4 linked regions of the Homo sapiens genome follow. The protein of the gene in region 1 purifies or fractionates together with the protein of each later gene. This does not show direct contact. Each region holds a gene or a part of one and is shown on either strand. Other genes may lie near its edges.

The links.
Region 2: the proteins of CAMKMT (region 1) and HECTD1 purify together in Homo sapiens (affinity purification with mass spectrometry; 3 studies listed by BioGRID and IntAct, with this or other methods). This does not show direct contact.
Region 3: the proteins of CAMKMT (region 1) and IREB2 purify together in Homo sapiens (affinity purification with mass spectrometry; 2 studies listed by BioGRID and IntAct, with this or other methods). This does not show direct contact.
Region 4: the proteins of CAMKMT (region 1) and COL1A2 purify together in Homo sapiens (affinity purification with mass spectrometry; 3 studies listed by BioGRID and IntAct, with this or other methods). This does not show direct contact.

Annotation. Positions count from the first base shown.
Region 1 is NC_000002.12:44,356,770-44,365,437, reverse strand, and holds the start of CAMKMT (calmodulin-lysine N-methyltransferase), read right to left. Parts: upstream 3,492-8,668; 5' UTR 3,431-3,491; coding exon 3,293-3,430; intron 1-3,292. Other genes in the region: PREPL (prolyl endopeptidase-like), read left to right, coding at 5,723-5,941.
Region 2 is NC_000014.9:31,197,522-31,205,386, forward strand, and holds part of HECTD1 (E3 ubiquitin-protein ligase HECTD1), read right to left. Parts: intron 1-7,865. UniProt on the Homo sapiens protein: E3 ubiquitin-protein ligase which accepts ubiquitin from an E2 ubiquitin-conjugating enzyme in the form of a thioester and then directly transfers the ubiquitin to targeted substrates.
Region 3 is NC_000015.10:78,496,862-78,502,464, reverse strand, and holds the end of IREB2 (iron-responsive element-binding protein 2), read right to left. Parts: intron 5,340-5,603; coding exon 5,154-5,339; intron 4,433-5,153; coding exon 4,322-4,432; 3' UTR 1,012-4,321; downstream 1-1,011. UniProt on the Homo sapiens protein: RNA-binding protein that binds to iron-responsive elements (IRES), which are stem-loop structures found in the 5'-UTR of ferritin, and delta aminolevulinic acid synthase mRNAs, and in the 3'-UTR of transferrin receptor mRNA.
Region 4 is NC_000007.14:94,389,727-94,398,403, forward strand, and holds the start of COL1A2 (collagen alpha-2(I) chain precursor), read left to right. Parts: upstream 1-5,168; 5' UTR 5,169-5,305; coding exon 5,306-5,375; intron 5,376-8,021; coding exon 8,022-8,032; intron 8,033-8,655; coding exon 8,656-8,670; intron 8,671-8,677. UniProt on the Homo sapiens protein: Type I collagen is a member of group I collagen (fibrillar forming collagen).

The sequences.
Region 1 (8,668 bases):
CCAGACCTCATCTAATTTAAGTACTCGCTTGACTCAAATCTTGGCAACTTACCATGTAACCTGGAACCAAATGATGCACTAGGTCAACCAGGTTTTCTCTCAAAACCTATGTTTTGTTAATTACAAAACACAGAAAATACTGAATAGTTAACATAAAGTAAAAGGCCATGAGACAGCCTTGGAGCTCTATAGGGTAATGGAAAGACAGAATTTTAAAGGAAAAAACAAGTAGACAGAGCAGATGTTCTTCAGATGTCCCACGAGCGAGAAAAGGAGTCACATATCTCTAGCACTGCTTAGATTCCTTATAGTTTTCCAGTACTAGATGCATATAGGATAGGAATGGTTCATTCATTTGAAATACATTTACTAAGAGCTTGTAAATGTTTAATATATGTGATCGATTAAATTGTAATAGAAAAATATTCACTTCCTCTTTGTCACCTCCAAGGAAGGAGTTGTATTTCCCTGCCCCTTGAATTTGGCCTTTGCCAAATATCTTACTTTGGCCAATAGGAAATAAACACATGATGTGAGCAGGGGTTTAAAATGTGTCTCTGTGGTTGGGCTTGCTCTTATACCTCTGCTATCACCATGAGGACTTCAGCCCACTAGTCCAAAGATTAGAGACATATGGACCACATGTGCATCATAGAGATACCCAGATGACTACAGCCTATGTCGGTCAGCTCCCAGGTGGCCCCCAGATGCACCAACAAAATAAATACTAACTGTTGTATGCCACTGTGATGTTGCGGTTCTTACTTAGCAATAGCTTACTGATAAAATACACTAAGGACTAGGTGCTATGCGCCACTTAAAGACTGTCCTTACTCTCAGGCTTTCCACAGACACTGAACAACATCTACTAAAAATCAATTAACCAGGCCCTGTGCTAGGTGCAGAGGATGTAAATTAATAAAACATCACCTTTTCCCAGGGTGAATGCCCATTCTAGTAAGAAAAAGAGACCCTGATCACATGATCATAAAATAATATAAAGGGCTCATTGGTAGAGTTGGCTGAGGGTCTAACTTAGCCCAGAGGCATTAGGGGTGGCTTCACAGAAGAGTAGTTTGAAATGGAAGTGTGAAGAATGAACAATCATTCACCAAGTAGAGAAGATAAAAAGACTATAAGCAGGCAGATATATACCAAAAGTTTCGATGTCAGAACGTGTGGGGACTTCATGTAACAGCCACAGCTGAAACTTGTCACTGTTTTCATTTAGACCGCAATTTAGAATGAACATAAGTGCTGTAGTTTTTACTATACTGAGAATCACTGAAAGCCAGGTATCATGGCATACCCCTGTAATTCCAACTACTCAGGAGGCTGAGGTGGGAGGATTGCTTGAGCCCAGGAGTTACCTGCCTGGGCAACAAGCAAGACTCTATCTTATTTAAAAAAAAAAAAAAAAAAAAAAGGAAGGGTGGGGGCGGTGGGCGTGGCAGGCATGGTGGCTGATACCTGTAATCCCAGCACTTCGGGAGGCGAGGCAAGTGAATCACCTGAGGTCAGGAGTTTGAGACCAGCCTGGCCAACATGGCGAAACTCCGTCTCTACTAAAAACACAAAAATTAGCTGGGCGTAATGGCGAGCACCTGTAATCCCAGCTATTCGGAAGGCTGAGTACGGGAGAATTGCTTGAACCAGGGAGGCGGAGGCTGCAGTGAGCCGAGATTGCGCCATTGCACTCACGTCTGGGCAACACAGTAAGGCTCTGTATCGAAAAAAAAAAAAAAAAAAGAAGGGGGTTGCCGGGCACGGTGGCTCATGCCTGTAATCCCAGTACTTTGGGAAGCCGAGGTGGGTGGATCACCTGAGGTGGGGAGTTCGAGACCAGCTTGACAAACATGGAGAAACCCCGTCTCTACTTAAAAAAAAAAAAAATTAGCCAGGCGTGGTGGTGCATGCCTGTAATCCCAGCTACTGGGGAGACTGAGGAAGGAGAATCATTTGAACCCTAGAGGCGGAGGTTGTGGTGAGCGGAGATGGCAGCCATTGCAGTCCAGCCTGGGCAACAAGAGGGAAACTCCATTTCAAAAAAAAAGGAGGGGGGAAGGGGGGTTGAGTCCACTCTCCCCAGCTCACGCCAGATCTCATTTCAGTGGTCACTATTAAAAAAAATTAGATATTTACTTTATTATAGATACTTCCTATGATGATCTGTGAGGACATGCATTTTCTTATCCTGTAATACCATTTGTAACAATAGCAAAACCAGATCATTACTGGTCTGGAAAGACTGTCAATGTATCAGCAAATAAATCTTAATTAACTCTGATGATCTACTTAACTCATAACTCTAAAAGCACTAAAAGACCACTGTATGAAAAGGTGACTCAAGGCAACTGCAAACAAAGTGATCCCCAAAATACTAAAAGCACAATCTCAAGTAAAGTGGCAATAGCTGGGAAACTCTTTTCCAAACACAACTGTCAGAAATGGAAAAATGTCCTCCTGAGTAAAGTTTTCGGCAGAAAACTTCAGGCAGAGGCATAACACTGCTATGCAAAAACAATAACCAGACTTCACTTCAAGAAGTGAGCGAAGAATGTGAGTGATCATAAATCAGAACTTCCGTCAAGCTTGCACGAGTGGAGTTGTAAGTAACAGCAGAAACTTTGAAGTACCAGAAGATACCATCATTCAAAAACGAACACACTTTGACTAGCCCACCTTGGACACGGAGAATCTCGCTGATCACTACAAACTACAAGATAATCATTTAACTTTGAGACCTCAGTGAGAGAGGGTATCAGCTTTTCCTACTCCTTGCACGCTCCGCTGTACGGAAGATGCCGAGGGAACGCATGCCGTGTCTCAGTCCCGGCATAGTCAACCACGCTGGGCAAAAGACGGGGCCAGAGGGTGCAGACGAATATCGGTAACTCGAACCAGGCTGGGAGTTAAGCTAGAAGAAACTGGGGAAGGAGGCAAAACAGAAGCAGGAAAAGAGCAGTGGGGAGCGGCGGGCGCACCAGAGACTGGCGAGAAGGGGAAAAGTCCCCCAGACGCACAAAAATGTCTAGAAGGGGTTCTTCTACTTCGATCTGAGTTTCCCAGGAGCTCAGCCTTGGCTGTCCCGCTCCCCACCCAACCCCACATGATTCCTCCTCTTGGATGGGACGCTTAGGTGAAGCGAGGGGGAGCTTCGCAGGTGGCTCCCGGCAAACTGAGAAGGGTCTCCCAGAGCTGCCAAGAGGAAAGAACTGCGAACAGTCGCTCCCCCGGTACGTGAGAGAGGAGTGACCAGAGGCAAAGGTGAGGCGAGCAGGTTCTCCCTTACCTGCCGCAGGAGCTTCCACCGGGCGGCTCCCAGGGGCGCCGAGACTACGGGCCCCCGAGTGGTGCAGCCAACTGCCGGACTCCCGCCCGCTGCTCGCGCGGTCTCGCCGGTCCCAGCGTCCGCGACTCGCGACTCCATCTCACTGGAGCCTTCCACACCCGGAGGTGCCACCGCCGCAGCTCGTCCCCTGCCAGGACCTGCCAACTTCTTCCCTGTCAGGACCTGTGACGCCCGGCACCCTCCCTCCACCGGACCAGGCATGCGCGCTCTCCCCGAATTCCGCATTTCCGGTACTCGCATCTCCTTGGCAACCAGGGCCGAGCTGTCACGCCATTGCACCATTCTTGCTGGTAGCCATCTTGAGTGAGGGCGGACCAGAGGATGAGAGAGCTGTGGCAGGGCTACTGGAACGCTGTCCCTCATTGTTTTAGCCTTCTGTGCTTCATCTCGAGCTCAGAAGACTAGCGAAGAACGAAAAGTCTTATATATTTCGAGACTAAAGAACCCAGGAACCCAAGAAGACTCCTTGACCACAACAAAGATGGCGAAATCTGCCTGTTGCTCGTGCTAGATTGAGGTTACGTAGATTGGCGTGCTGCAAACCAGCTCTAGGCGGCTCTGGGTAAGTTGTCGTTCTGTGGGCTGCGGAACGCAGACTTCGGCTGGACTTGCCTGCGGTGACACCTGCTCCCCTCTGAGAGCTTCAGGTTCTCCGGCCTGCCTTCACTGGTTTGTGTCCAGAGCCGGACTGATTCTCTCAATTTGCGTATGTATGGGGGGTGTGCTGGTCTCTTTCCTTCTCCCCTTTCTCCCCCCGCCCAGCCACCCACCCCTCAGTCCCCAGGTCCTCGCTTTTTGACTAATGTCCCGGCACTGCGTGCGTGTCACCTGGTCCCTCTCCCTGTTGCATTCAGATCGCCTCATCCCTGGGGTGGAGAGTTGCACGGGGTAAACGAATAGGTTCTCCTGAGAACACCCATTTATCTACCCCACCCCCATCCTAGCCTTGCATACTGTCTTCTTGGGGATGAAAGATGGATGGATAAAGGCTGTGGGAACGTGGTGATGTAGGACCTTTGCAGGTCCTTGTTATTCGGGTCTTTTTTCCCCTTTTTTTACTAGTGTCGGCTAGTAAACTAGTGTTGCTCCCCTACCCCCAATCGCCCATTATTTTGCTGCGACATGGAAAGGGATTAAGGGGGGCGGGGGCGTCGTAGCGCATCTGATCTATGGTAAATTTGACGCAGCATTCTACCTTTGATACCAGGGGGCATTTTGTGGAAGACTTCCATAATGACATTCAGCGGTGTGCAACATACCTAGATTATTCCTGTCGTAAATAATAGCAACTGCCATTTATTGAGTGGTCACTATGTGCCAGGCACTGTATGGTCTTAATGTTAAGCTGTCTCATTTTGTCTTTACAACAACAACCCTAGAAGGTAAATGGTGTCATTTCATTTTTGCAGATGAAGAAACTGAGGCCCGGAGACACAGTTAAGTGTAGGAGCTAAGACCTCAACCCAGGTCTCTCTGACTCTTAACTACTTATTAGCAATCAAGGTTAATAAAAGCTACCTCCTGACAAACCAGAGATGGCCTTACATTTTATTTGTGCATCTTGCAGGGGTTTTTTGTTGTTTTTAATTAAAGCGCTAAATACCTTTTTAACATTAAAAATCCGAAGTTGAGTATGTCCAGTATTTGGAACCGAACCAAATTGGATTTTTTGCTATACAGCTTACTGTACAAGTGACCTGGAACAGTTGCTTAGAACCTCCCACAGCCACAGTTTGGCAACCTGTAAAATGTGCATGGTAATATCTACTTTATTAAGTCCATATAAAATTTAAATTAGACAAACAAGATAAAAGCACCTGGCAGTTAGTTAACACTCAACAATAATTAATCTTCCCTCCCCCACCTTTATTAAATAATTAGGCTTTTCCAGTTTATCTTCCACATATATACCAAAGATACGTTCATAATTATGTAAGACCAAAGGGCTTTTTACCTTTTACAGCCCTGAGTTCCTGAGATACCCCATTAAGTCTGTGTACTTATTTGCAAATTTATATTTTGTTTCTTGTTTTGTTTTTTGTTTTAGTTTAACCCCTATGTGTGCCAGAGTCAGTGCTGCATAGTTTGAGCCTGATAGGATTAACTTTACAAATGAGACATTTAAGTCACATCTGCCAAGAATTATGATTTGAATGAAACTTTAACTTACACAGGTTTTTAGATTTAGTTAGCCTAAGTTATCAGCTGTCTGAAGTTATTCATAACCTAAGTGGGGCATGGCCCTGAAAAGGAGGGATGAGAACTGCTGATCTTAGTTACTCTGAGAACCCACTACTCTGTAATCATACCTATAAAATCATTCGTGTGCTGGCAGCCCCAAAAGGAGCATAAACCAGGGACTTTGATATCATGCAGCAGAAGACCAAATTATTTCTCCAAGCTTTGAAGTATAGTATTCCTCACCTTGGAAAATGCATGCAGAAACAGCATTTGAATCACTATAACTTCGCTGATCATTGTTACAATAGAATAAAATTGAAAAAATATCACCTAACCAAGTGTCTTCAGAATAAACCCAAGATATCAGAGTTAGCAAGAAACATCCCAAGTCGGAGCTTCTCATGTAAGGTATGGACTGTTTAAGTTAACCTATTTGTAGGTCATTAAGATTAATTTTAATTTAAAAATAAAGAATGGGTAGAATATCAGAGCTACTAATTTTCTCAGTAATTCTAACTTGATTTTTCTAATTTTCAAGTCTCAATTGTCTCTAGTCAAAAGTAAGTATAAAAGAGTATATACATCGAGGCAGGCAGATCACCTGAGGTCAGGAGTTCGAGACCAGCCTGGCCAACATGGTAAAACCCTGTCTCTACTAAAAATACAAAAGTTAGCTAGGCGTCATGGCACCCACCTGTAATCCCAGCTACTTGGGAGGCTGAGGCAGAGAATCTCTTGAACCCAGGAGGCAGAGGTTGCGGTGAGCTGAGATCGCACCACAGCACTCCAGCCTGGGTGACAGGGAGACTCTGTCTGAAAAAAAAAAAAAAAAAAAAAGTGTATACATATATTTATAGGGCTCTAATGTAATATATAAAAATGTAGGTTTATAAAAAATGATTCACCTCAGGACTTCCTTAGTATGCCTGCCAGTGCATTTCAAAGTATAATTCGGCCTTCTAAATTTCCTAGAACACTAAATTATAGCTCTTAATAAAATCTAATGATACGCTAATTGTTTTATGAATCACAAATCAGTAAACTTCAGTAAAGGCCATGAATTGTATTTTATTTCTCTGTAAAAAAATGAAAAATAATCTTGCGTTTTTGACCACTTGAGTCATTCAGGAAGACACTGTCAGAGTATTGTACTTCTGCCAGACCCCAAGCTGTGGGCGTGAACTCAACCTTAAGGACCTGATTGCCCTTATATAGAGAGTAACCACATAACCACTTTTGCCTGGCACAGCTCCAGCCTACACCTGTTGTCCCTGTGTAATTATTAATAGTGTCCCCTTTCCTCTCAAAAGTGTCCTGGTTAGAATGGTAAATTATATGGTCATCCTACAGTAAGTAGGATTAAATGATCTATTTGTGCTGCTGCTGCTTTGACATCCCTCTCCTACCTTTTACTTCTTATGTTCCTTAGGTTCCTTAATGATATTTGGGGGTGGTATTCTTGCAATAGTTTCACAAATTTATGATTTTAATATTTTTTTTATTTTAATTTCTGGTTTTGTCGCATACTGATTTTTCTTTTAGTCTGTTTTGGCTTCCTCCTTTCTTCGGGTAAAATATATGTATAACAAAGTTTTCCACTTGATCCATTTTAAAGTATGCAATTCAGTGGCTTTCAAAGTTCATCTGTGTTGTATGCATGTATCATAACTTCATTTCTTTTTATAGTTGAATAATATTCCTTTGTATGTATAAACCACATTTTGTTTATCCATTCCTGTAATTGATGGACACTTGGGCAGATTCTTCTCATTTTAGAAACTATCTTTTCAATCTAATTTTTCTCAGTTTTTCTAGTTTTTGTTCAATTTTTGCCGCTATCTTAGCTGATACCTATTTAGGTGTTGTGTGTGTCTCTTTTGCTTTTAACATTTTATATGTTAGCCCCCTAGTCTTCCTAGACTTTTACTGTTTATGTTTTAGTCTTTGAAATTCTTTTCCTTTTTGTAGTGTCTTGCCTTAGTTTAGTACTTTCTTTACTCATTTAGAAATTCTTTATAACTTCTTTTTATTTCATTTTTGTGTTTTTTGTACATCTTTCCTACTTCAGAAAGATAAAATTTTTAATTTCACCTATTGAACTAAATTTTGGACCTTTAGGTTATTTTATTTTGCATTGTGTTTAGAACATTTTGTCATGTCGTACTTTGTCTTAACACTTAGTTTATAAATAGTAGACAGGAATTACCATCAGAGTAACAGCTGTGATATTAGCTCACATTCTAAACAGAAGGTTGACTATTTCTTCCCTCCATTTGTTCCTGAAGCAACTTTTCCGTTCTCTTTTATAGATTCCCACTACCTGGAAACTTTAACCTGACTCAATAACTCCAAGTATTAATAGTTCATTTAGTAATTCCTTTACCTGATAAAGTAATCCTGCTGTCACATGTCATGTATCAACCATTCCCTCTATGAGAAATGATGTAATGTAAAAGCCATGGTCTTTATCACTGAGACCTGGGGAAGCTTTATAAAGATGCCCCGGCAGCTGTGAAAACACCTGTAGAGAAGAATGCACATTTCCTTCTTTCAGCAAGCATCCACTGATTTCCAACTCTGTCCACTTTTATAGGGTGTAATAAAGTAGAAAAAGTAGTTACTGCTTTTAGGTAAATTAAAATGTCTGCTTAAAGAGCTATTACCTATATAAGTTAACTAAGGAACAGAAAAGTAGCATGTGTAGTGGGAATGTTAGAAGGCAAAAGATCCAGCCACGATTGGTGTGACTGAACTAATCAGGACTCCTAATTTTCCTGACTGAAAAAAATAGGGAGTTCTGATCAGGCATACTGGCTCACGCCAGTAATCCCAGAACATTGGGAGGCCAAGGCGAGCAGATTGTCCGAGCTCAGGAATTCGAGACCAGCCTTGGCAACATGGCAAAACCCCAACTCTACCAAAAAGACTAAAAATTAGCTGGGTATGGTGGCGCACGCCTGTAATCCCAGCTGCTTGGAAGGCTGATGTGGGATGATTGATTCAGCCTGGGAGGTCGAGGCTGCAGTGAGGTTGAGGCACAGTGAGATCTTCAGCCTGGGTGACAGAAGGATACCCTGTCTCAAAAAAAAAAAAATAGGGAGTTTCAACTTGTCATTCTGTAGAAAGTCTTAGAGG
Region 2 (7,865 bases), on another chromosome or scaffold:
CAGAATATCAAGCTTCATATAAGACCAACTGAATCAGAATATGCATTTTAACATGATCCCCAGGTGACTCTCATTATGCACATTAAAATTTAAGAAGCACTGCTTCTATACAAAAGCCAATTCTCTCCCAGTTTTTCAGAATCCTTACCCTAGGGATTATTCACTCTCTTTCTTATCTCTTTGACCTTTAAAAGAAAAAACCCCACACTCCTTTTCCAATTCAATTCTTCAAAAAAGTTTCCACATGTCCTCCATTTCATGTTCCACTCACTCCTCAACCCATTCAGATCTGCCCCTCACCACCACTCCACTCAGCTCTCATTAAGATCAATGACCTTGAGAATGTTGCTAAATCTAAAGGACATCTTTTCATCTAACCCCTACTTGACCTCTCACTAGTATTCAAAACAATTGCCCTTTCTCTTCTTGAATCACTTTCTTTCCTGTGTTGACATGCGCACTAATGATGCAAAAGCAATAGTGGATAAAACTGCAGGTGCTTTAACATGAATCAAGGCAGTAGCCCTAACCTGTACTAGATAACTGTATTCTTCACTGCCAAGCACTGGTATTAAGAAAAAAGCCAGTTTCACTAAAGAATAAACTAGATGAAGCAAAATTATTAAATTTACTAAATCTCAACCCCTGAAGATACATCTTTTCAATATTCTACTTAAAGGAAATGGGAATTAATTATAAAGCACTGCATACGGAAGAATAATGGCAAAGTACATACTTGAGGACTGAACTAGCCACTTTTTTCTTGCAACACCATTTTTACTTGAAGGACTATCAGACAAACTGATCATTCAGACTTGGCTATCTGGCAAACATTTTTTCAAAATTTAATCACGTATGCCTTTCATTTCAAGGAAAACGATCAACTGTATTTGTTGCCAATCATAACACTCAACTTTACAAGCAAAAATGACATTTTTGGAAAACTTGTATTTGACACCATGAGCTTGAAAGCTTCTGAATATTTAAAAACTTGTCTGATGAGAGTGGTAGTCATATTGACAAATAAGACTTTTTGGCACTGTGGAATGAGATATGTCCACATTTGGAAAATCTGTGTAACTCAGTGGACTGATATTTTCCACATGACCAATGCATAATTTTTGCAAAAGTAAACATGGGTAAAACAGTCACTCAAAGTATAAGACAGACCATCAGATTTTAATGTAACAGAGTGAGTATAAGTTCACTGATATGATATCAGAATCCACATTATAACTAATCCTGGTAGGGTGCAGTGGCTCATGCCTGTAATCCAGTACTTTGGGAGGCCAAGGCAGGTGCATCACTTGAGGTAAGGAGTTCGAGGCCAGCCTGACCAACATAAAATACTAAAAATAAAAAAAATTATTCCAGTGTGGTTGTCTGCGCCTGTAGTCCCAGCTACTCAGGAGGCTAAGGCGGGAGAACTGCTTGAATCTAGGAGGTGGAGGTTGCAGTGAGCCAAGATCGCACCACTACACTCCAACCTGGGTGCGAGAATCTGCCTCGAAGAAAAAAAAAAAAAAAAAAACAGAATCCACATTATAACTAATCCTTAAGAAACTATCACTTGTTGAATTTTGACATGTTATCAAAGAAGCATATCCATGATTACGTTAAAAAATATAATATTCTTCTTCCCTTTCCCAAATACATCTGTGGATGATTTTTTCATATATTTCAATCAAAATAACATAATGCAACAAACTGAATGCAGAAGCAGATATGAGAATCCAGCTATCTTCCATTAAGGCAGACTTTAAGGAGATTTGCAAAAATGTAAATTAATGCCTCTATTCTCCCAAAATGTTTTCTTTTAAAAAAGTTATTTTTCACAAAAAAATTTTAACATGTAAGGGGTTTATTATTATAATTTTTTTTTTTTTTTTTGAGACAGAGTCTTGCTCTGTCGCCCAGGCTGGAGTGCAGTGGGGCGATCTCGGCTCACTGCAAGCTCCGCCTCCTGGGTTCTGACCTGAGGTCAGGAGTTCAAGATCAGCCTGGCCAACATGGTGAAACTCCGTCTCTACTAAAACTACAAAAATTAGCTGGACACGGTGGCGCACACCTGTAATCCCAGCTACTAGGGAGGCTGATGCTGGAGAATCACTTGAACCCAGGAGGCAGAGGTTGCAGTGAGCCAAGATTGTGCCACTGCACTCCAGCCTGGGTGACAGAGCAAGACTCCATCTCAAAAAAAAAAAAAAAAAAAAAAAAACAACTTCCCAGTTTCATTCTGAATATGGCAAATAGCAGTAAGCATACTAACATAAACAAAAGTTCTTCAGGATCCACAATAATTTTTAAGAGCTTAAGGAAGTCCTGAGACCATAGAGTTTAAGCATCACTGCCCTAGATCTCAATCACATCCCATGGCCACAATTAACCTCCACAGGTGCTTGACTCTAAAATTTTTCTCTAATCCAGGCTTCACCTCCAATTTCCATTTATACAACTGCTTACTTAATATCTCCACTGAGATGTCTCAAAAGTACCTCATACTCAACATATCCAAACCCAAACTCATGATCTCAATCTCTCAAACATGGTCCTCTTTCCAGTGTTCTCTCTCAGTGAGTGGCATCATCATCCATTGTAACCTGAGTCATCCACGACACTTCCTTCTCCCTCTCTCATATTTAATCATTCGACAAATCCTGACTATCTTGCCTTCCAAATCTCTCTCAAATATATTCAACTTTCTACTTTTATCACAAAACCCTCTATCTCTCTGGATCATAGCCTCCTATCAAGTCTACAAGCATTTGTTTGTTTTGTTCCCACTTCCTATCTCTCCTTACTCATCCTTCCTAGCTCTAGGAAAAACCACTTCCCCTTTCTTGGCCAGGCACGGTGGCTCACGCCTGTAATCCCAGCACTCTGGAAGGCCAAGGCGGGAGGATCACTTAAGCTCAGGAGTTCTAGATCAGCCTGGGGAACCTAGTGAGACCTTGTCTCCATCTAATTTAAAAAAAAAAAAAAAAAAAAAAGGTCACACCTGTAATCCCAGCACTTTGGGAGGCCAAGGCGGGCGGATCACTTGAGGTCAGGAATTCGAGACCAGCCTGGCCAACATAGTGAAACCCGATCTCTACTTAAAAATACAAAAAGTAGCCAGGCATGGTGGCGTGTGCATGTAATTCCAGTTACTGGGGCGGCTGAGGCAGGAGAATCACTTGAACCTGGGAGGTGGAGGTTGCAGTGAGCTCAGATCACGCTATTACACTCCAGCATGGGTGACAGAGCAAGACTCTTGTCTTGAAAAAAAAAAAAAGAAAAACCACTTCCCCAAAGACCACTCTGCCCATCCCCACCTCTCCAGGTCTTGTCCCTGCTTCATGCTGTCACAGTACCCTGAGCTTTTCCTTCATGACATTTAACACAGTTTGTAACCACATTTTTTCCCCACAATTATCTGTTTTCCCTATTAGACTATTAGGCACATAAGGTGCTGTATTTGTTTTGGTCATCACCATATCTTTCCAAGACCTAACATAAAGTAGACAATTTAAAGTTAAAAAACTTGTTCCTGTACAGGTATTTTTTTACCTTTTAGTGTAAACATATCAAAAAAGATTTTTTTACCACTGTGTTCAATAACTTTGGAATCCAGACTCAAAACAATGTTCCTTGGATATCTCTTGAAGGATACACTAGGAAATGATTAACAGTGGTTTCCTCTGGGAAGAGGAACCAAGTAACCAGGAGACAGGAAAGGGAAGACAACGGACTTTTTACTGTATATCCTTTTGTGCCCTCAAAATTAAGTGACATCATTATTTTTTAAATAAAGCCTACTAGCACCTAAAAGCATCTTCTGAGATGCTCAATTTCCAGAGGACATAACTTTCAAATTATATTCAGATTTAGTAGCAAGATCTAGAAATGCCCATAATACATATTTATAACATTAATACATATGATGATCACCTATTTTGATGTGAATACAAAATGCTCATTAGCTAATAACTCATATTACTATTACTTACTTTTTTTTTTTTTTTTGGAGGCACGGTCTCACTCTGTCACCGAGGCTGGAGTGCAATGGCACAATCTTGGTTCACTGCAACCTCCGGCTCCCAGGTTCAAGAGATTCTCCTGCCTCAGCCTCCCAAGTAGCTGGGATTACAGGCACATGCCACAGTGCTCAGCTAAATTTTGTATTTTTAGTTGAGATGGGGTTTCACCATGTTTGCCAGGCTGGTCTTGAACTCCTGACCTCAAGTGATCTGCCCACTTCAGCCTCCCAAAGTGCTGGGATTACAGGCATGAGCCACCGCACCCGGCCATGTTTACATTACTACATTTTAGAACTCGATACATCAGGTAAAAGCAAAAACGAATCTTGAACGTGTTTTACTTTCTGGAGCATTACCTTGATAAGTTCAGGCATTAATAAGAAGCACTGACACATCATAGAAGAAGTTATATTCGTTGAACTTCAGAAAGACACTGTCAAAATGGGTACAAACAGTGGAGAGCCGGCCGGGCGCGGTGGCTCACGCCTGTAATTCCGGCACTTTGGGAGGCTGAGATGGGTGGATCACAAGGTCAGGAGATTGAGACCATCCTGGCTAACACAGTGAAACCTCGTTTCTACTAAAAATACAAAAATTAGCTGGGCATGGCTAAAATAGCACTGCGCTCCAGCCTGGGTGACAGAGCGAGACTCTGCCTCAAAAAAAAAAAAAAAAAAAAGTGGAGAGCCATGTACAATACTAAGTTAAAGGAAAAAGAAATCCTTGACTATTATCCCATTTATTTTCAGAAAAATCCTGCAAGGATGAGGAAACAGACTTCAAAGGCTATCACACAACTATTCAGTGGAAAAGGCAGGTATCTGAACCCAAGTCTATCCCATTGCAGAGGCCACTGTTTCTACCACACCACCTGCCTTTCCTGACTAAACAGATGTGAAACTATTAAGACAAGCTAATTAAGCAAACATATTATCAGGACATACAGGCATGTTTTGGTTTATTAGACAGAACTAAGTCCTATTTGCTACTACTTTATGAAATCAAGGTAGTATGAAAGATTTTTACCAATATTCAAAATATGCACATCATCTTGCTTTTTTTGCCTGCTGGGAGTTGATTGTTTAAAAGAATTTTAAAAGACCTTTCCAAATCAATCACTTTATTCATGGAATAAAGTGCTAAAATAAAATTCAAAATTAGATATTTATTAATGATGGCATCAGTGGGTAGCCCACTTTACTCAAAACACTTAACATACATTCTCTCCTTTAATCCTCACAAGAAGGCCCACTGGAAAAAAGACTACTGGCTGGGCATGGTGGCTCACACCTGTAACCCCAGCACTTTGGGAGGCTAAGGCAGGTGGATCAGGAGATCAAGAGATGGAGACCATCCTGGTCAACATGGTGAAACCCCATCTCTACTAAAAATACAAAAATTAGCCAGGTATGGTGGCACGCACCTGTTGTCCCAGCTACTCGGGAGGCTGAAGCAGGAGAATCACTTGAACCTGGGAGGCGGAGGTTGCAGTGAACCAAGATCGCACCACTGCACTCCAGCCTGGGCAACAGAGCAAGACTTCATATGAAAAAACAGAAAAGAAAAAAAGACTACTGCCATTTTACAGGGGAAGAAAGTAAGGCTCTCAGAGGCTAATGAACACAACAGACCAAGAATCTGAACCCAAGTCTCTGATGCCACAGCCCATTCTTTCCATCTCACTATGCCTCCCTCACTAGTTTCAAGAAGGAACCAGGACAATTTTCCCTTGTAACAACAAGAAAATCTGGCTATAGAATGAAAAGCAAACTAATGTTTAAAAACAAAACAGTCACAAAATTAAACCAAATGTCTAGTTTTTGGAGGTTACTGGTACACTACCCCAAACACGGCTAACCCCTTCAACTTGAAATACTCTTGTATCTTCATATAGTAAATCATATCTGACTTAACTTTAGGTTCATTTCCTTAAAATTACATTATAAAGCCAGGTGTGGTGGCACAGCCTATAGTCCCAGCTACTGAAGAGGCCGAGGCAGGAGAATCGCTTGAACCCAGGAGCTCGAGGCCAGACTGGGCAACATAGTGAGGCCCCAGTCTCTTAAAAATTACATCATACTATATATGAATAAAGCCTAGAAAGGAAAATGGAAAAAATAACAGCTGTTATGTTAGGATGGAAGGATTTTACATAGAGATAAATTTTATGTTTTAAAAATTTCATTTAAATTGTTTTAACATGGCAACACTTTTTTTTTTTATTATACTTTAAGTTTTAGGGTACATGTGCTCAACGTGCAGGTTTGTTACATATGTATACATGTGCCATATTGGTGTGCTGCACCCATTAACTTGTCATTTACATTAGGTATATCTCCTAATGCTATCCCTCCCCCCTCCCCCTACCCCACAACAGCCCCCGGTGTGTGATGTTCCCCTTCCTGTGTCCAAGTGTTCTCATTGTTCAATTCCCACCTATGAGTGAGAACATGCATTTGGTGTTTTGTCCTTGCGATAGCTTGCTGAGAATGATGGTTTCCAGCTCCATCCATGTCCCTACAAAGGACATGAACTCATCATTTTTTATGGCTGCATAGTATTCCATGGTGTATATGTGCCACGTTTGCTTAATCCAGTCTATCATCGATCGACATTTGGGTTGGTTCCAAGTCTTTGCTATTGTGAATAGTGACACAATAAACATACGTGTGCATGTGTCTTTATAGCAGCATGATTATTATAATCCTTTGGGTATATACCCAGTAATGGGATTGCTGGGTCAAACGGTATTTCTAGTTCTAGATCCTTGAGGAATCGCCACACTGTTTTCCACAATGGTTGAACTAGTTTACAGTCAGTCCCACCAACAGTGTAAAAGTGTTCCTATTTCTCCACATCCTCTCCAGCACCTGTTGTTTCCTGACTTTTTAATGATCGGGCAACACTTTTTTAAATGTCATAACAAATACTTCTACTACATATTAGTACTAAACAGAAGCTACGAAATGACAATTGACTTGACTGACAAGTATGATTTTTAAAATACCAAAAGTAACTTTCAGGTTACCTCTAATGAAATCTATGAACGCAATTTTTAACTTGAGAGTCAGGATGAGGAAAAAAATAAAAAATAAAAATAAATTTTAAAAAATCTACTTTACTATAAATCCTGCTAAAACAAGTGTCAACTAAGGGCTAAGTTATTCTTACATACTCAAAATTCTGCCAATGACAAAAACTAATGGAAATAAATGGACCACTAACTAATTGTAATTTGGAAATTTTATTAGTAAGGATTTTTATCTTAGTACTGTTTTAACAAGAGTTACAACTGAAAGTTATTCAATAATCAAAAATGAAGGTACTTTAAAAATTTTGCCAACTGAGTAATATAAACTTTATTCCCACCTAAAACACATTAGGATAATTATACCAAATTTTTTAGGTCAACATCTCAAACATTTTCTACTAATTACCTTAAAATAGCATTAAAATGAATAAAGAAACATCAGAGTTTTCAATTACTTATTACTGGAGTTCAAAACTGTAAATACAAATGTAAAATAAACAGTAAAAACGAAACACATGTTCAACACTCAGAAGAATGGTTATTCTGACTGGACAAGTTATGACTTATATAAGAGGGAAAAAAATGGCTGTAAGGTCTATCTAGTAAGAATTCTCTTTTATATTTTTGCATATATACTAAGTTATAACCTCCCAATAAAACTGTTTAAACTCCCCAAACTTCAAAATGTTTCTACTACTCCAAATTTTCTACTCTTCTGCTACACGGTTAAGATCCAATTTATACCTTCCCAAACTGAAATTTACAAACCAATAATCGGCTTTAACAAAAGTACTGTCATATGACAACATCAATGA
Region 3 (5,603 bases), on another chromosome or scaffold:
CTTAGAAAATTCTAATAAAGTGCCAATTATGGTTTATGATTACTGAATTCTAAGAAATAAACCTTACTCTTTTAGGTTGCTAATAATAGTGGGAAGAAAGGATACGTCTTTTTGGATGAGTGTCCCCGCCCAAATCTCATGTCGGATTGTAATCCCCAGTGTTGGAGGTGGGGCCTGGTGGGAGGTGACTGGATTATGGGGGTGGTTTCTTATGGTTTAACACCATCCCCCTTGGTGTTGTCCCAATAGTGAGTTCTCCTGAGATCTAGTTGTTTAAAAGTGTGTGGCACCTCCCCTGTCTCTCTGTTCCTCCTGCTCTGGCCACGTGAAGTGCTTGCTCCCACTTAATCTTCCACCTTGATTGTAAGTTTCCTGAGGCCTCCCCAGAAGCCAAGCAGATGCCAGCATCATGCTTCCTGTACATCCTGCAGAACCATGAGCCAATTAAACCTCTTTTTAAAATAAATTACCCAGTCTCAGGCATTTCTTTATACCAATGCGAGAACAAACAAATACACCTGGGATCCTGGCTCCCAGCTTCCGATGACTTGTTTCATGAACACTAATGAACGGGCAGCACAGGGAGCAGGCATCCTCAGCTGCTCCTGGATGGCATCTGGATGGCGGGACATTTCATTTTTGCTTTTTTTTTTTTTTTTTGAGACAGAGTCTCACTGTTTCGCCCAGGCTGGAGTGCAGTGGCGTGAACTCTGCTCACTGCAAACTCTGCCTCCCGGGTTTATGCTATCCTCCTGCCTCAGCCTCCCAAGTAGCTGGGACTACAGGCGCCCGCCATCATGTCCGGCTAATTTTTTTGTATTTTTAGTACAGACAGGGTTTCACTGTGTTGGCCAGGATGGTCTCGATCTCCTGACCTCGTGATCCGCCTGCCTCGGCCTCCCAAAGTGCTGGGATTACAGGCGTGAGCCACCGTGCCCAGCCGGATGGCAGCATATTTTTTACATCATGTTGTTTTATTTTCAACTACTACAAAACAGAACAAGAATCAAATGTGATAATACAATTTTCTTTATTAAAAATAATTTACAGCATCAGTAACATATACACAATTGTCATCAACTGAACTTTGCCTCCAATATATTTCTATACAATACTTAACATTATTGAACTTAAAACTGTTACACTGTTTTGTTGGCTTTAAATAATAGACAATGATTTTTGTCTATTACTTAGTGATAGACAAAGTGATTACTTTGTTACTTAAGTGAGATATATGGTTTCATAGCCACATATTATGTGTAAAATTGATAGAAACGTCAGCAATATCACTCTTTAGGGGAAAAAACACTGAAAAGCCAAAGTCCACCCTCTTCTTCTCTCTTATTACTCCAACCAAACTAAGATAGGATAAACATCCAGTATCTTAGTATCTCCTCCTAAACCTAAAGACAAAAGAAAGGTGTCTTCTATTCAACCACAGAAAAATGTCAAATAATTTCTTCTCATCCTCTCACTCATCACTGTGAAAGCAAATGCACACGACCTTGTTACCATATATGCAGGCAACTATGATTCTGATTTAGGTCCTAGCTTTACTTTCCTTTAGTACAACTGTTGTTTGATTACCAACGAAAAACTAAGCAATCTGGCTAGAGGGATACTAGTACCTTCTTTCAAATGTCAGCATGGAGATAAAACAAAATAGTGATAACTGTCATCTTAGAAACTTTTTAGATATAATAATGGCAATTCAGTGGCTGGATGACATTTCCATTGATTCCATTGTATAAGAGTAGCAAAACCCCAAAATATGAAAATGGCAATGATATGTAGCATAATGTTTTCAAAGTATAAAAAAAACCCTGCTGTTGGTAGTGACCTTTGAAATTGTACTTTAAGCTTACAACACTGATTTGCTTTTCTTGTGTGTCTGACATTACACTTCCTTTTTTTTTTTTTTTTTTTGGTAACACAAAATTACCCAAGGTATAGTAAACAAAGAAGACACAGACAATAAAAACTAACAGATGCCACATTTTGCAAACATAGCATTTGGCTAGAGGCAGAATTATAAGGTATACATATTAAAACATACATCCAAGACTCTCCTCCTCAATTTGAAACCATGTTTATCAAGTTTTTACTTCATTGTATATAAGCCAAAAAATTAAGAGAACCTTGATTTGTTCCTGAAATACAAGATTTGCTTGTATTATTACTGGACCAGGTAGACTGGATATGTGAATGTTTAATTCATAGTTAGCTAGCTTTACCATCATCTCCTGAATCAGCTGCTGAGGATGCCTGTGCCTCTGCCCATAACTATATATAGAGTATGCTTTCAAAACAATATAGGCCGGGTGTGGTGGCTCACACCTGTAATCCCAGCACTTGTGGAGGCCAAGGCGGGCGGATCACGAGGTCAAGAGATTCAGATCATCTGGCCAACATGGTGAAACCCCATCTCTACTAAAACTACAAAAATTAGCTGGGCGTGGTGGTGCATGCTTGTAGTCCCAGCTACTCAGGAGGCTGAGGCAGGAGAATCCCCTGAACCCGGGAGGCGGAGGTTGCAGTGAGCCAAGATCGCGCCATTGCACTCCAGCCCAGCCACAGGGCAAGACTCCGTCTCAAAAAACAAAACAAAACAAAATAGATTTGTTTCCCCCTGCACAATCTGGAATTACCATTTCTTCAGAGCACATACAGGCATTTCATCTTTCAACCTGTAATTTCTCCTAACTCATGTTTTCATGTAAATTAAAAACACATGCACTAACAAATAAATATACAGCATATATCAAGAACACAATATAATTTGAAAGTGTCGAAGAAAATACTTATACAAAATTTAAATAAAGAAATCATTTTGTCGAACTCTAGTCCATCTTATTGTCTAAACACATATTTGCAAAATATTTTCAAAAGATTGTATGATTATGTGCAAAGTTCTTAGTGGTCTTCATCCACTGGTTTGGTAGTTTCAGCATTTTGCTTACAACAAGTAATTCTTTATGCAATGTGAACTAATTCTGAATTGCAGTAACTAACTAGGTCATAGAAAGATATCTATGTGAAAAAAAATCACTACAATTAACCTTTAGCCTGCTAGACTTAGTTTCTTAATTAAAAAAACAGTATAGAACCTTCTATAATTAATTTTCCAACCTTTTTAAAAAAAATTACCAAACATCTTGTTGACAGAACATTTGATGTGATGGGCAGACATGCATATTGAGGATATATAGTACTCAGCAACAACTTAAGTGTTTTATCCTTACGGTCAGCTTTGGTTAAAACAGTAACATAACAAAATTAATAGAATCATGCATCGCAGGTGATAAATGATTCAAAATGACAGGAAATCAATTTAATTAAGAAATAGCAACACTTAAAAAATGCATAGGGTTGAGCACCCGTATTATTGAGGGTGGATAATTTAAATGTATAGAAGAAATCAGTTCAGAGTTTAATGATTGAATAACATTCTCTTTAGCAACTATGAGTGTGAAATTTTGGTTAATGATACCGAAAATATTAGGTTATAGGAAGTTACAGTATTACATAAGGTGAGCAAAATAATCTAATCCAATTAATATAACGCCATCTGGGGGCTTGCCAGACAGTCACAGTGGCAAACTGCTGAAATATGAAAGGCTGCATCATATGTGATACATATTCCCACTGCTAATACATGGTGCCACACAATCAGTTGTATCCTGCCATGGTCCATCTTCATATGTGGAGGGAACCTTGGCTGGATTGGACAGAATGATTGTGACCTGGGGCAGGTTCCATCCCTTGCAGTTAGACTAAGGATAAACCTGGTTATATGACAAACTAAGAATGCCAAATGTGTCCAGCTCAATTCTGAAGAGGAATTAATATACTTAAAAGGTCCATTTATAAATGAGATTCCAATGGCCACAATTTTAGAGTCTAATCTGGCTTCTTATATTTCAATCTGCTACTCTTAAACCAACAAACAGTAGTACACAGTTTTATTGGTGCAAAACTAAACAAATCCAGGAAGGTTATTCATATAAGAATCTTCAACACAAATTCTGCCTTTATTTACAAAATGGTCTGATAAAATATCGCCCCCCCCCCATACTTACAGGTCTCTTCCACAACACACTTCACACGTTGATTTTAGCAATATTAATAGCACCATTCGTATATTATTTAAAATCAAGAAGATTTCATTTCAGTTACTATGTTGATTCATCATCATTTACATCCATGGATGAGATAAGTGAGTATACTGGGACTATCTGCTGCTCCATGGTAAGGATTCCTGGGTCCAGCACAAAAGGCTTTGCAGTTACCAGTTATGAAAGGTATCTATGGTAAGTAGATACTATGAGAATTTTCGTGCCACAAAGTTTAATAATCCTCCATGTTTGTATAATGTTATTTCCACATCATCTTCAAACGAAGCAATCACGCTGAATACTTTTCCAGTGCTTGTCTTGAAAGGAGCAAAAACATCTCATGTGAGCAAGTAAATCTTCCAGGTGCTACTTGATGGTTAAGACCATTTGTCTTCATATTTAATGACTATACTTGCCACAGATTCTGTCTGATTTATCTTGGTTCTAATTTCTTATATTCTGATTGCCTGAAACTTTGCTGCTGCTTGAAAAACACCTGAGATACCTGACCATGGGCTTCATAGTTAAGTAGAAAAATAGCTGCATTTAGATTTTGACTTATTAATTGGGGAAGTTATACTCACTACTCACATTCATTTTACACCAAATATTGATTGCATGTAATCAGTAACTCCTACTCTTTCCCCTTTTTTCTTAGTTGTAAAGTCTGTTTTGCTCTAACTTTGAACGCTCAACTTTGCTCTCTTTGGAGTGGTATGTATGCCTCGGTTAAAATTAGATCAGGACAGCAAAAAAATGACCACCATGAAAAGAAAGCTGACACTTGTTAAGTGGAAGTCAAGATTCCCCTTCATGTGTTCTTTTTTTCTGGTATAAGCACCCAGTTCTTTCCACTTTTCCTCAGAGAACATGAACTATTAACATAGCTAGATCTAAGTATGGAAGAGAGAGTCATCTTAAATGGCAACTTAACATTCATTAAGTGACATTAGTATATAATTTACAGCAATTGATTCTTATTCAATAATTCATAAACATTTGAGTGCATAATCATATATTTGAAAAATTTAGAGATACCTGTATATTCAATGTAATTCCAGGAGACAGTTCTTCAGGAAATGTTAAAGAAAATGTTTCTCTACCGGAGAGGCCCAAGGAATCTGCATTTTCTCCTGGAAGGAACTGAAGTGGAGCTATGCCAATTCCAATCAAATGATCTTTGTGTATTTTTTCATAACTTTCGGCCAAAACAGCTTTCACACCCTGTAATAAATGTGCATTTTATTCCCTCTAATCACTTCTGAAAGTTATTTATTGAGCATTTAAAGGGGGCAAAAATCTACTTTGGCCTTTCTCTAAATACTTTTAGTCTAATATCTCATACTGAATCAATATTTTATCAAAGTATTTACAGAACCTTCTTACAGATTATTTTTCTGAATTTTTATGGAGCTCTCTAAATTATTCGGATCCCTTTCTGCTGCTCTAGGGTTAAGTACTGCCGCTGCCTACCACATCATAAGAGCT
Region 4 (8,677 bases), on another chromosome or scaffold:
TCCCCACCCCAAGCTATCTCCTCCTCAAATGTTCCCCAAGTCACTGGATGGCACCTCCAGTCATCCAGTTGCCAAAGCCAGAAACTGGCAGTGCTCCTTAAGTCATCCCCTTGAATTCTTCCTCTCTCTCTCTCTCCCCATTACCAAACATCAGAGCACTTTTCTTCTACTTCTGAAACATTTCTATAGCTCATCAACTTCTCTTGAGCTCCACCACATCTATCCTAGTTCAGGCCACCATCATTTCCCCTCAGAATTCCTGCTGCAGTCTCCTTACTGTTCTCCCTGTCTCTACTGTGCTCCCCTTCTAATCGTTTCTCCACACTGCAGCCCCAGTCATCTTATTCAAAACACTCTCTGGTTTCCTACCCTCTCTGTTTAAAATAATCTAAACACTCCCATAGCACACTTGAGAAAACACAAACACCAGAATACAGCCTAAAAGGTCCTTTTTGATCTGGTCCCTGCCAAAACCACCAATCTCATCTCTAGCTCCTTCCTCTATCCTCCCTCTTTTCCACCACAATCCCATCGTACTGAAATGCTCCATTCCTCAGATTGCCAAATTTTTCAATGCCTCTGTGCCCACACCACTCTCACACCTCTTTTTAAAATTTTGTTTGTATTTAAGGGTTGAACAAGGATGTTGCATCCTCCAGGAAGCCCTCCTTGATTCCACTTATCTGAATCTAGATGAGGTGTCCATCCTAAATCCTCCCATAAACATGTAAGCATTCTATTCCTCCATTACAGTATTCATCACACTCTTCTCTATCCTCCAACAGACTATAAGCCCCCTGAGGGCAATGACCTTGGCATTCTGTTTCATAATTATATACCCACCAACCCAGTAAGTGCCTGGCATAACACTAAATATTGCTTGAGTAAACATACATCTTACCAGCTGGGCGAGGTGGCTCATGCCTGTAATCCTAGCACTTTGGGAGGCCGAGGTGGGTGGATCACCTGAGGTCAAGAGTTCCAGACTAGCCTGGCAAACATGGTGAAGCCTCCTCTCTACTGAAAAATAGAAAAATTAGCCAGGGGTGGTTGTGGACACCTGTAATCCCAGCTACTTGGGAGGCTGAGGCAGGAGAATCGCTTGAACCCAAGAGGCAGAGGTTGCAGTGAGCTGAGATCGTGTCATTGCACTCCAGCCTGAGCAACAGAGCAAAAACTCTGTCTCAAAAAAAAAAAAATATATATATATATATCTTGACTCATTTAAATAATCAATGGGAACTGAATATCCTAATTGATATGACACAGAGCAGGAATCTCCATGCCTTTCAAACAAATATCACAGAAAGAAATCAGCCCTTGCTGGGCACAGTGGCTCACACCTGTAATCCAAGCACTTTAAGAGGCAGAGGCAGGTGGATCACTTGAGCTCAGTTGGAGTTTAAGAAAAGCCTAGGCAACATGGTGAAACCTCATCTCTACAAAGAATACAAAAAATTAGCCTGGCATGGTGGCATGCACCTGTAGTCCCATCCACTAGGGAGGCTGGGGCAAGAGGATCACGTGAATCCAGGAATTCGAGGCTGCAGTGCCCCCAGATCATACTACTGCACTCCAGCCTGGGTGATAAAGTGAGACCTTCTCAATAAATAAATAAATACAAAATTAAAAACCAGCACTTAACTCTTCAGCTACCACATTAATTCTCAGCAAATACCTTCTTAGCAGTCGTTTGACAATCAAGTCAACTAGAACTGGAACTAGAATGAGATAACATGGTATTGCTTCTTCTCACAGAGTAGATCCTCAATGAATGTTTGAAAGGAGATGTCAGTCCGATGTTTACCTTTGATCAAAGAAAGGAATATAAGATTAAGACATCAGGGCCTCGTCAGGCTGTTCTGCATTTCTGTATTAGCCAGACTCTCAACCATTTTCTTGCCATATATAAACATGTGGCCCAGTTTGTAATCAGTGGGTTATAGGAAGCTAAAGAAATTATCTTTTCTTTCATAGAAAATAATTTGGGCATAGGAACCCAGGTATTAACCGTCTAGCACCAAAGTTGTAGGAATCTTTAGTCTCCTCTGCCTCCCTTCTTCCATCCCTCTACTCTCAGTCTTGACCCCACCCCACCCCTTACTTGTTTTTCCTTCTACTCATTTTCTCCTCCCTCCCTCTCCCCTCTCCCCACACTAGAACCATCAGGGCCCTCACCAGGGCATTCAGTTCAGGTTCTGGGTCAGCTCTCACAGCTCTACCAGTCCCACCCCCATCCCCAGGAAAAACTGCTCCTTATTTGGAGTCACAAAAATATTTAACAGAGATCTAACTGACCACTAAAAATTCCTCCTTTAAAACAAACACCTAATCAACTATTTTCCCCCAAGTTATATGGAAAAACAGCTGCAATTAGAACTTGATTCTCACTTTAAGAAAGAAAGATTCTTGTTTGGTTTTCTCCACTTTCATTTTTTGTTTCTAGGTCCAGGGCCTCCCACCAAATGCTGACGGCTGCCTGCTTCAAACCCTGCCACATCAGCAGGGAGGGAGCACAGCGGCATTTGGTATTTGCATCAGTTTCCAGGAATGCTTTTCAAGTTATCAGTTCACTCTGCTGCCTTTAGCAGAGACGTTTTCCCTCTAAGTTTATAGATGTCTGCTTCAATTTACAGTCCTCTAATTCTCAAAAACTTGCTGAGGATTTTTCTTTTTTGGCTAAAAGAGAAATTATAATCACACTTCTAAAAACATTCTATGTTTTAAACTATTTTGACAACAACAACAAAACCTACAATGAAATGTTTAAAACTTGGGATATCTATTGCAAATCCAATGATTGAGCCAACTTGACCCCAGAAGCGTTATCAGATAACCTCACTGAAGGGTATTTGGAGGGTTTCTTTCATAAATCTGTTGCATTACCACCCTGAGTCATTTTGCTCAGAATTAGTCTCTGACTCTCAGCAACACAGGACAAATACACACATATGCCCTGCAAAGGTAATTCAGCACAGTGGTAACAATGATTCTTAGAAATCATTTCTCACTCTTCTGATATGCAGAAAAAAATTTGTTATGATGTAGTATTGAAGTTTTTCTTTCCTGATAAAAATGATTTCCACTTTAAAAGTTTTTTGTTAGTTCTGTAACGGTGATATTTCAGGGAAATGTTAAAAATGTTCTTGGAATATACAATTCAACCTCAGGTCTTTTGTTGTTGTTGTTCCTAGAACCTAGAAAACTTCAAACATTGTTGCCTAGTTAGAAAAAAATTTGAATGTGGATTGCTCCCTGTAAACCCCCTTCTAGGAATGACCAGTAACCCTTTCAAATTCTTTCACTCCCAGTTACTTCAAAAAATCATCCAAAGTGGTCTCCCAAGTGAGTGCCTTTAATTAGAATAAAACAAGAGTTTATTATAGTTTTTGGTTATCCACTTTTACTTGCATTAACCTTTTTTTCTTCTTTTACATTTAGAAAGAGTAACCTGCTTTAGAATAGTCCCTTTTATTTACAGAAGCTGCTGATGGAGTTAACTTCTGCAGAAATTCTTCCTTAAGGCAAAGCAAAAAAAGCGGGGAGGGGGTGGGGGGAAGGAAGGGAAAAAGATTCTCAGGGAACTACAGCCCACTTGCTTCTGTTTCTTAGAGACAGAACTGACCTAAAGATGCCCCCTTTGCGATGACTTCTGGGATAGAGCAGCACTCTAACTAGGCCCCCGCTGCCTCATGGGGACCTTAGGCAAGTAGAGGAGAGGCCTGACACACACACACACACACACACACACACGCACACGCGCGCGCGCGCACACACACACACACAGCCTTTCAAACCTAGGGCCTGGAATGCCATCCCAAGAGGCTTTAGAAAAAGGCACAGGACCTTTGGCCTCCCACCTCAGGGTCAAAGTACCAGTTCCTCCTCTCCCTAGTAGGGAGTGGAGGGTTGGATGGAGGCGGCCAGAGAAGAGGGAAGTTGGGTGCTGGGGAGAGAGTTAACATCCACGTTGGTGGGCGCACTGCTTGGGGTGTTACCAGCGAAGACTACGAAGACCCCAAGCTCGAATCAGAAGGGCCTCTGGATGTGCTAGGGGAGGTGCTTGGGTGTGGCTGTAAGAGATGGGACAGAGAGTAAGCAGCAAGGTCAAGAGGGACCGGGGGGCTCACGGGAGGGTTGAAGGGTCCAGGCTCAGGGTAGAACTGGTAAATCCAGACAAGGAGCCCATGGAGAAGGGGAGGGGAGACTGGAAACCATGAAAGATCCCCCACCGCAGCCTCAGAAAGGAGAGACTGAGAAATAAGTTCTCGGTCTCCAGGTCGGTTGGAGTCGTGTCGGAGTGCCAGACCATCCCCCAAAAGACCCTCTTTGGAATGAGCCTCAGCAAAGGCAAGCTAGGAGGTCGAAGGACTTCCCCAGGTGACTCGGTCTAGTCTAGAGTTCGCAAAGCCTATCCTCCCTGTAGCCGGGTGCCAAGCAGCCTCGAGCCTGCTCCCCAGCCCACCTGCCAACAAAAGGCGCCCTCCGACTGCAACCCAGCCCTCCACAGACAGGACCCGCCCTTTCCCGAAGTCATAAGACAAAGAGAGTGCATCACTGCTGAAACAGTGGGCGCACACGAGCCCCAAAGCTAGAGAAAAGCTGGACGGGGCTGGGGGCGGGGTGCAGGGGTGGAGGGGCGGGGAGGCGGGCTCCGGCTGCGCCACGCTATCGAGTCTTCCCTCCCTCCTTCTCTGCCCCCTCCGCTCCCGCTGGAGCCCTCCACCCTACAAGTGGCCTACAGGGCACAGGTGAGGCGGGACTGGACAGCTCCTGCTTTGATCGCCGGAGATCTGCAAATTCTGCCCATGTCGGGGCTGCAGAGCACTCCGACGTGTCCCATAGTGTTTCCAAACTTGGAAAGGGCGGGGGAGGGCGGGAGGATGCGGAGGGCGGAGGTATGCAGACAACGAGTCAGAGTTTCCCCTTGAAAGCCTCAAAAGTGTCCACGTCCTCAAAAAGAATGGAACCAATTTAAGAAGCCAGCCCCGTGGCCACGTCCCTTCCCCCATTCGCTCCCTCCTCTGCGCCCCCGCAGGCTCCTCCCAGCTGTGGCTGCCCGGGCCCCCAGCCCCAGCCCTCCCATTGGTGGAGGCCCTTTTGGAGGCACCCTAGGGCCAGGGAAACTTTTGCCGTATAAATAGGGCAGATCCGGGCTTTATTATTTTAGCACCACGGCAGCAGGAGGTTTCGGCTAAGTTGGAGGTACTGGCCACGACTGCATGCCCGCGCCCGCCAGGTGATACCTCCGCCGGTGACCCAGGGGCTCTGCGACACAAGGAGTCTGCATGTCTAAGTGCTAGACATGCTCAGCTTTGTGGATACGCGGACTTTGTTGCTGCTTGCAGTAACCTTATGCCTAGCAACATGCCAATGTAAGTGCCTTCAGCTTGTTTGGGGGAGACTGGGTAGAGAGGTTAGATGGGAGGGCACCCTGCCCTGAAAAGGAAAACCTGTAACCTGAATTCCAGGTACACTTGGAGGGCAGACTCTCAGGCATGTGGGAAAACGCCGGAATTGATAAGAAACATGGAAATTACTTTAAAAAATGAAAACATAAAAGCCTTGCCAAAAGTTAGGGAACTTTTCCTCTAAGTTCAGAGTGAGACAGTTAACTCGGTCTGGCTCCTCAGCTTAGTAACCCCCAAAGGGAGCGGAAGGTCTTTTTCCCTAAGGATGAGATATTAACGACCAATGTGGTGGAGGAAGTCAAGGGCCTGCACCCCACAGGCCCCATAACCGCACTGATGTCCACCTTGTAAAACTTGAGGCCTGCGTTAGAAAGCCCTTCAACTGAGTAATGTAAAACTCACCTCCTAAGAGCTTTTATCTTCTGGGCATTGTAAGGCTTGTCCGGAGGAGGAGGATGACGATGCTGATATGATGATGGTTATAAGGCGCCCTCTGGAGGAAGGAAAATGAAAGTACAGGGGACAGGGCCTTAAGCAGATGGAATCCCAATTAAAGCTTCTACGGATTTATACAGATTAATGATCAGCATTTCTGGTTGGAGCCTTTCCCAGTGGCTAGTCAGTGAACCCTGGAAAGAAGAATGGATGCTACTTGGAGTGGGTACATTCTGAAAAGTAATATAAGTGTCTCAATTCACTTTCTAGTCATGGAAATGGTAACATTTTTTAACTCAAATCTGCTCTAAATTTTGTTTGAGCCTGAGAATTACCCCTTTGACATGTTCCCAGTGATAAGCAAACATTATGAACGCAGCAAGTTGAGAAATATCAACATTGAGATGAGACTCAAGAGACCGGGGTTTTTCCCATGAGTCTGACACCAATTTGCTGCGTGACTTTGGGCAAGTCAAACGGCCTTTTCTAAAATGTGAGACAGAGATTAAAGGGACCCCAAGGCCACTTTCCAGCTCTAGGTTCCATGGCCAGACTTTCATGTCAACAGAGAATGAAGAAGATCAGTCCGTTTTCATCTTGAAAATGGCTGCCAAAGTGCTAGACAAAGATATTGACTAGATGGGGGATGGTATTGTCTGACCACACCCAGTACTCCAAAAAGTTGTTCCACCCACACAGCACGGTGTCTACCACTGCATAATTTCTAATGCATTTGTGTGCTTGTGTGTGTGTGTGTGTGTGTGTGTGTGTCTGTGTGTCTGTGTGTCTCTTCCCCCTTCATTCACTTTTAGTATACATACTGTGGATACTAAGGAGTAATTGCAGTGAACAAATTCACATTACCGAGTTCATATTTTTAATGAGATCTTGAGAGTGGGAGGAAAGAGTCGGCTCCTAGAGAATAAAATGAAGGCAGACTTAGGGAAATTTGAAGGTACAAAGGCAACTTACCTTCTGATCAACAGCCAACCACAGTCTGGAATAAATGTTATCAAACACACATTCTTCAAAATGGTCCATGTCTGAGTAATTAAAAGGCAAATTTCCAAAATCATAAGGACTTCCGTTAATCAAGTCAGGCATAATTATTCTTCCTACTGATGGACACAATGAAGTAAACATATCATTCTTGTAATTTAACAGTAATTCTCGTAAATTGCCCTTAAATGTCAGTGCTGGATGTGGTCCACCCTCCTAAATTGTGACTGTTGCAACAGATGTTCTCACTTCAAATAACGCACTTCTTGGCCACCTAATTAAAGCAATTTTTGGGGTGATTCATCCTACTGCAAGCTTGGCCACACTTGTATCCTGTATTAACCTATAATTTTTGTACCGTAGGAGAAGAATTCACTCTTTAAGGACTTATAACAATTATGGCAAAAGGGGGGATAGTACTTTTGTTTATTTTTTCTATTATTTTTCAAGATCTTTAATCCGGTTTTTCCATTTATACAAAACTCTTTCTCCGAGACAAAAATGATACATATTGGTAAAATGATCTTACCTAATTTAAGTGAACTAATTTAAAGCAAAATTCAGATGTCTGAATTAATCCATTTTCATAGTTAATAATGTGCAAATTAGACCTTTTGAAAAAGGATATTAAGAATGGTACAAACTCAATGAAGTACTAGGTAACTTCAATGTTTTATAAAAAAGTAAGTCAGCTTCAATGTTTCATAAAAAACAAATTCAATATAGAATTTTAAGGTAACATACTTTCCTAAATTTTACCTTTTTTCGATATTTAGGTATTAAAAATGATCAAAATCATAAATTATTTCCTCATCAATCTACTAGTCTTACATTCAGCGATTCATCTGTGCACTTTACCAGCTTAATTGCTAAGCATTCAAAATATCCTTCAGACACATTAATATTTCACAACAGTTATAAAATAGTAAATAATTAATAATTTAATTCAAAATACATTTACATATTAATATTGCAAACAAATCACCCTGCTGATCCCTGCCATACTTTTGACCTGCATAATTTCTAGGTCATTAAAATATTCTTAAAAAAATATAATTGGTCCTTAATTAGGTAATTCAATTCTATAAACTTGTTTCTCTATTTGTTAATTATTGCTATTGATCCATGAAGTGATACTAATAATTGTTTCCTACTTTTTCTTTTTTTTTTCTACAGCTTTACAAGAGGTGAGTAAAACTTTTTTTAGAATTTTTAAAAATACTTTGATTCCCTTGGCTACAGTGATGTCTTCTCTTGGAAGGGAAGAAGTTACATTAATATTGACCATCCTAGATTCCCAAGAAAATTGTGAAGAATTATGATAGTCAAAACCTTTCTGGCTGCCTTAGAAAGTACCCACCCAATTTTCCAAAATAGGCGGGGCTACTGAATAAGACTAGGTTTATAAAATATTCATAAGAAATATAGAGTAAATAATCCAATAGAAGTTTGAGTTTTAGGATCAGCTTCTATGAAGCAGAAGATTTCACTGAGCTAGAGAATCTTTTCACTCCTTTGGAATTATTTGCAAAAGCACTTATTGTTAACACATTCTTAGCTCATGAGTTGAATTTGAGGCATAAGTACAGGTACGTATTGCTATGTATTTTTTGTTCTGTAGGTACATATTTTTATTTGACATGTTGGTAAAATTTTAAATTGTAGTTTGAAATATTAAACTGAGATAATAGTAAATGCATAATGTAATGAATTGTGAAGGTATATTTGTATACTACACCAAAATGGAAGCTGTTTTTAAATATATATATACAATTTTCTTCATAATAATCTTTGATTTATTCTTTTCTAGGAAACTGTAAGAAAGGTAAGAG